2 separate regions of the Homo sapiens genome follow, and region 2 is linked to region 1. Evidence: fine-mapped expression QTL. A gene starts in region 1. The other region holds a variant in brackets. All regions are shown on one strand. Distances are between the middles of the regions.

Evidence for each region. PIP is the estimated chance that this variant, and not a neighbour inherited with it, causes the effect. A credible set is the group of variants that fine-mapping cannot tell apart.
Region 2: its variant is the best candidate, but not a certain one, in a credible set for the expression of RIMS2 in iPS cells (iPSCORE, PIP 0.56).

Annotation. Positions count from the first base shown.
Region 1 is chr8:103,499,177-103,502,083 of GRCh38, forward strand. RIMS2 (regulating synaptic membrane exocytosis 2) reads left to right here and starts at 1,434. Exons shown (of 30, transcript NM_001348484.3): 1 at 1,434-1,886. The coding sequence starts at 1,711. It overlaps LOC105375690 (a long non-coding RNA gene), which reads right to left and starts at 2,734. Exons shown (of 5, transcript NR_145698.1): 1 at 2,620-2,734. RefSeq lists a silencer at 2,545-2,839.
Region 2 is chr8:103,827,557-103,830,463 of GRCh38, forward strand. All of the region lies in intron 6 of RIMS2 (regulating synaptic membrane exocytosis 2), which reads left to right. Among named protein-coding and RNA genes, the nearest start is that of RIMS2, 330 kb to the left of the region's middle. The variant GT/G (reference allele first, on the strand shown) is at 1,530.

The DNA of each region.
Region 1 (2,907 bases):
CCTCCCCTCAGGATCCTTCCGCACATTCTCAGCGTCCAGCGCGGTTTCCCACAACTTCCTCACGCCCCGCTCCCCTCGCCCTGTCCCCGCCCTCGACACCACCTGCGTTCCCCACTCGCTCCAACCTCCCTCCCCCGCTATCCCCACTTGTGGGCCTCCAGCTCTCTGCCCCTTTCCTGGCCCCCATCCCTGACACCCCAGGGACCCTTCCTCCCTCCTCACGTTCTCCCTCCTTCCAGGATCCCGCCCCGACACTTCGGGGCCCTCCCGCTACGCGCACTCTTTCTCCTCAGGTCCTGACACCTGGGCGCCCCCTCCCTGTCACCCACCTTCAGCTCCAGCCCTGACTCTCGGGCGCCTTGCCACCCTTACGCTCCCCGCCCCGCCCCGGTCCCTCGGGCGCCCCCACTCGCCGCCTCTACCTCCCTACCTGCTACACCTGGCACCCCTGCCCCCACCCCTGCTCATACTCTTCCCCCGCCCCCGACACCTCGGGCGCCCCCTCACACGCTCCTATTCTCCACACTTCCGTCCCCGAAAACTCGGGCGCCCTCTCCCTTCACGCTCAGTCTCTCCTCCCTCCCCGCCCGGCCCCGGACCCAGCCTGGAGATCGCGCTCGGGAGGGGCGGCTGCCGCCCGCGGGGCGCCCGCGGTGCCCGGGCCTGGGCAGCGAGGAGGTGACGCCGCCCCCGCGGGATGAGCCCGGGAGGCGGAGGGGCGGAGGAGGTGCTGGCGGCGGCACTGAGCGGCGGCGGCGCAGGGCGCGCGGGCCTTCCGCGCCGACTCCATCGACCCAAGGGGCGGCGGCGGTGGCGGCGGCTGAGCGACCCTGGGCCGGGCGCGTGATGAGGAGGGGCCGGCGCCAGACCCCGCTGCACGTCGGAGCTCGCCTGGATCCGGGCGTTGGCAGCCGAAGGGCCCTGGCCCCGGGACTCTCCGCCGCTAGCCCCCGTCATATCTTCTCCGCTTTCGCTTCTCCACTCTAGCCGGGGGTGGGGTGGGTGGGGTTGGGGTCTCCGCGGGGGTTTCCGGCCCCGCGGCCCGCTCCCGGGTGTGCCTGGAGGAGTTCTCCCTCTGTGGCGCGCGGGAGCCCTGTGATGCGTCAGCCGGCGGGACGGATGAGTTGCTTCTCCGGGAAACCGTCCTCGCTTCCTCACGACCCTCTCGGCTCCCGCCTGGGTGCCCCTCGGGCCGGCAGTACTCCGCCTCCGGGCGCTCGAAGCGAGTTCCCCGGGGGCTTGTTCGCAGGCACCCCTTCCCCTCCGAGGCGGCGCGCGCGCTCCCGGCCCTGACCGCGGCCGGACACACTCGCGCCCCGGTCCGCCTGTCGCCCTCCCGCCTGCTCCCTCCAGTCACCCCACCCTTAGCTGTCCCCGCCACCTTACTCCACCACCCTCCCCCGCCTCTCCGCGCACTCCGCGTCCCGGCCTCCAGTTCCCCTTTCCCTTGAACCGCTCACTTCACAGCCCTTCGCCCCCGGGAAGAAGAAACATTTCCCGAAGCGCACTCCTCAGCCCTCCTTCCCCACGCGCTCGCCCTCCCCTCCCCCTGCTTTTCTTGGGGGAGGGGGGCTGTCGCCTTGGATTGAAGGCCATTGATTTGTATGTATTTGTCCCAGCGCTGGAGGCTGCCCCAGCCGCCGCGCCGGTGCCGCCGCTGCCAGTGGAGTTGCCTCCCCGCTTCCCTAGGGTGGTTCGGCTCCACCAAACATGTCGGCTCCTGTCGGGCCCCGGGGCCGCCTGGCTCCCATCCCGGCGGCCTCTCAGCCGCCTCTGCAGCCCGAGATGCCTGACCTCAGCCACCTCACGGAGGAGGAGAGGAAAATCATCCTGGCCGTCATGGATAGGCAGAAGAAAGAAGAGGAGAAGGAGCAGTCCGTGCTCAAGTAAGGACCTGGCTCCATATTCCCGCCTCTCTCCCTGCCCTCCGCCCCCTCGCCCACTGCCCTGCGGCCGCCTGCGCGCCCCAGTTCGCCGCCCTCCCTCCCGCTGGCGGCGCCCAGGCCACGAGGGCTGCGGCCAGCGCCGGCCGCCCGGGCTGTTTTAGGGGTGTCTGAGAGCAGGGGTGTGTGTCGGGGAGGGAGGGCGCCAAGGCCGGCTGAGGTGAGGGTGGCGAGCCTTAGGCGGTGTGATTTTCCTTGGCGCCTTTCCGGATTTCCTCGCTGGTCATCTTGGCTCCGGGGCCCCAGCGGGACTGGGGCTGAACCCAGGCTCTGTGCGTACCCTCTCCTTTCCCGCCGCGCTGAGGCAGTGACTGGGGCACAGAATCCAATATGGCCGTGCACAGGTGCTCCCTGGACGGACCCGGGCGAAGGCGCGCTGGCAGGGGATGCGGACGCCACCCTGGTCCCACGCCTCCGCGGGGCGGCTCTACCAGCAACGCGGGACAGAGCAGGGCTGCCCACAGTGGCTGCGAGCAGCGGGCGGCGGCGCGGGCTAGGGGCCTAAGCTCTGTCGCGGTCGGGTGGGTGTGCGTCCGCCGCCATCTTCCAGCCCCTCCCCCTCGGCGAGTGCTAACACCCTGCACTCTGCTGCTCTTCCTGTTTGCAACTAGTAAATCTGTTTAATCCTGAAGAGACTCCAGTTCCTACCATCACTGCAGTTTGGGATGCTCCCTACCTTGTGAAGTTCTACTATTCTTGCTCACGGTCTTGGCAGGCCGGGTTTTTCTGAGGGTGGTAGGAGTGAAAGCAGCACCCAGGCATGCGTTTACCGGCTCTGGAACTTCAGCACCAGGGAACTGTCCAGACAGGGTTATCTTTAGCTCTGAGACTACTTTTCTGGTTAGCGTAGCAAAGAGATTTGTTTCTACAAGGTTTGCTTTTGAATGTTTTATGGTTATTTGATTTCTCAGTTACTTTGTGAAAGAGGTTATTCAGAAGATGTGTAACCTTTTTATGTTTTTCC
Region 2 (2,907 bases), 330 kb after region 1:
TTGGGCGCAGTGGCTCACGCCTGTGATCCCAGCACTTTGAGAGGCTGAGGCAGGCAGATCACGAGGTCAGGAGTTTGAGTCCAGCCTGACCAACATGGTGAAACTCTGTTTCTACTAAAAATACAAGAATTAGCTGGGCGTGGCCGTGTGTGTCTGTAATCCCTGCTACTCAAGAGGTTGAGGCAGGAGAATCGCTTGAACCCGGGAGGCAGAGGTTGCAGTGAGCTGAGATCGTGCCACTGTACTCCACCAGCCTGGGTGACAAGAGCGAGACTTTATCTCAAAAAATAAAAAAAAGAAGGTGCAACGGTAGATAACTAACCAGATAGAAGACACTCCATCTCAAAAAAAAAAAGGTGTGCATTTTGTGAAGTGCTTTTTCTTCAGTAATTGAAATTATTTTGTAATTCTTATTCCTGATTCCATAATAATGCTAATTTTATTAGTTTAGCTTTTGAATATTAAACCAACTTTGCATTTCTGGGTTAAATACCACCTCATGGGATACTTACAATTTTATATATTGCTGGTGTAGATTTTCTGTGATTTTGATAAGGTTTTTTTTGCATCTATGTTCATGAGAGATTTTAGTTTTCTTAAGTTGAAATGTCTATGACAGGTTTGGGCATTAGGGTTATTCTGACCTCATGAAATGAGTTTGGCATTTACTTTTTCTCTATTGGATGAACAGTTGGTATCAAGATTGGTGTTATTTATCCCTTAAATATTTGATAGAATTCACCAGCAGAACCATCCGGACTTAAAGTTTTCTCTGTGTGAAAATCTTGATAAAGTATTCAATTTCTTTGGCTACATGTATGTCTTCTTTTGAGATGTGTCTGCTTATGTGCTTTGCCTATGTTTTAATGGGGTTTTGGGTTTTTGCTTGTTAATTTGTTTAAGTTCCTTATAGATTCTGGATATTAGACCTTTGTCAAATACATAGTTTATAAATATTTTCTCCCATTCTGTAGGTGTCTGTTGATAATTTCTTTTGCTGTGCAGTGGCTCTTTAGTTTAATTAGGTCCCACTTGTCAATTTTTGGTTTTGTTGCAATTGCTTTTGGAGCCTTTATGTCATGAAACCTTTGTCAGGTCCTAGTCTAGAATGGTATTTCCTATTTTTTTTTTATAGTCTTGGGTTTTACATTTACGTCTTTAATCCATCTTAAGTTGATTTTTGTAGGTGGTGAAAGGAAGGGGTCCAGATTCAATCTTCTGCATATGGCTAGCCAGTTATATCAGCATTATTTATTGAATAAGGAGTCCCCTTTCCCCATTGCTTTCTTTGTCAACTTTGTTGAAGATCAGATGGTTGTAGTTGTGTGGCTTTACTTCTGGGTTCTGTAATCTGTTCTGTTGGACTTTATATCTATTTTTGTACCAGTACCATGTTGTTTGGTTTACTGTAGTCTTGTAGTATAGTTCAAAGTTGGATACTGTGATGGTGCCTCTAGCTTTGTTCTTTTTGCTAAGGATTGCTTTGGCTATTTGGGCTCTTTTTTGGTTCTATGTGAATTTAATAATAG[GT/G]TTTTTTTTTTTTTTTTGCTAATTTGGTGCAAAATACTGTTGGTAGTTTAAAAAATGTTCAATAGCTCTAATCATTAGAGAAATGCAAAGCAAAACCAGAATGAGATACCATCTCACACCAGTCAGAATGGCTATTATTAAAAAGTCAACAATAGCAGATGCTGGCAAGGTTGTGAAGAAAAGAGAATGTTTATACACTGTTGTTGGGAACATAAATTTGTTGAGCCACTGTGGAAAGCAGTTTGGAGATTTCTCAACCCAGCAATCCCATTACTGGGTATATACCCAAAGGAATATAATTGTTCTACCATAAAGGCACCTGCATGCATATGTTAATTGCAGCACTATTCGCAATAGAAAAAGCATAGAATCAACGTAGATGTCCATCAATAATGGACTGGATGAAGAAAATATACACATACATCATGAAATATACAGCCATAGAAAGTATGACATTATCTCCTTTGCAGCAACATAGATCGAGTTGGAGGCCATTATCCTAACCAATTTGATGCAGGAACACAAAACCAAATACTGCATGTTCTCACTTACAAGTGGGAGCTAAGCTTGAATACACATGGACACAAAGAAGGGAAGATTAGACACTGGGGCCTACTTGAGGATGGAGGGTAGGAGGAGAGTGAGCATGGAAAAACTACCTATCAGGTACTATGCTCATTACATGGGTGATGAAATAGTCTACATGCCAGATCCCCAAGTTTACTCATGTAACAAACCTGCACATGTACCCCCAAACCTAAAATAAAAATTGGAAAGAGAAAGATAATAACACTATGATGATGAAAAATAATACAAATTTTAAGAAGAATTCAATTTCTTTAAGATAAATAGGATTGATGAGGTTTTATGTTCAATCTTTCTCAATATGGTCAGTTATGTTTTTCAGTAAATTTAATATTTTTATTTAAGTTGACTAATTTGTTGTTATAAATTTCATATTTCTTTATTATCTTGTTAATATCTATGGATCTAATAGTGATGACTCTTATTTTATTCTGATATTGTTATTTTGTGATGTGTGATCTTTCTCTCATTTGCCTATTAGTTTACCTAGGAGTGTATCATCTTTTTCTTTTGATTTTGTTACTTTTCTCTCGTTTGTCTACCATTTCAATGATTACTGTTCCTGTCTTAATTACTCCTTTTCTTCTACTTATTATGGATTTAATTTCCTCTTCTTTTTAAAGCTTTGGAAGGTGGAACTGTATGATTTCTTCTGATTCATTGATTATTTTAAAGTGTGGTCATTTCTAAACATTTAATTTAAAAATAAAATATCTTATTATTTTTTATGATGACATTTTATTCTGGTGAGAGAAATATCTTATTATTTTTTATGATGACATTTTATTCTAG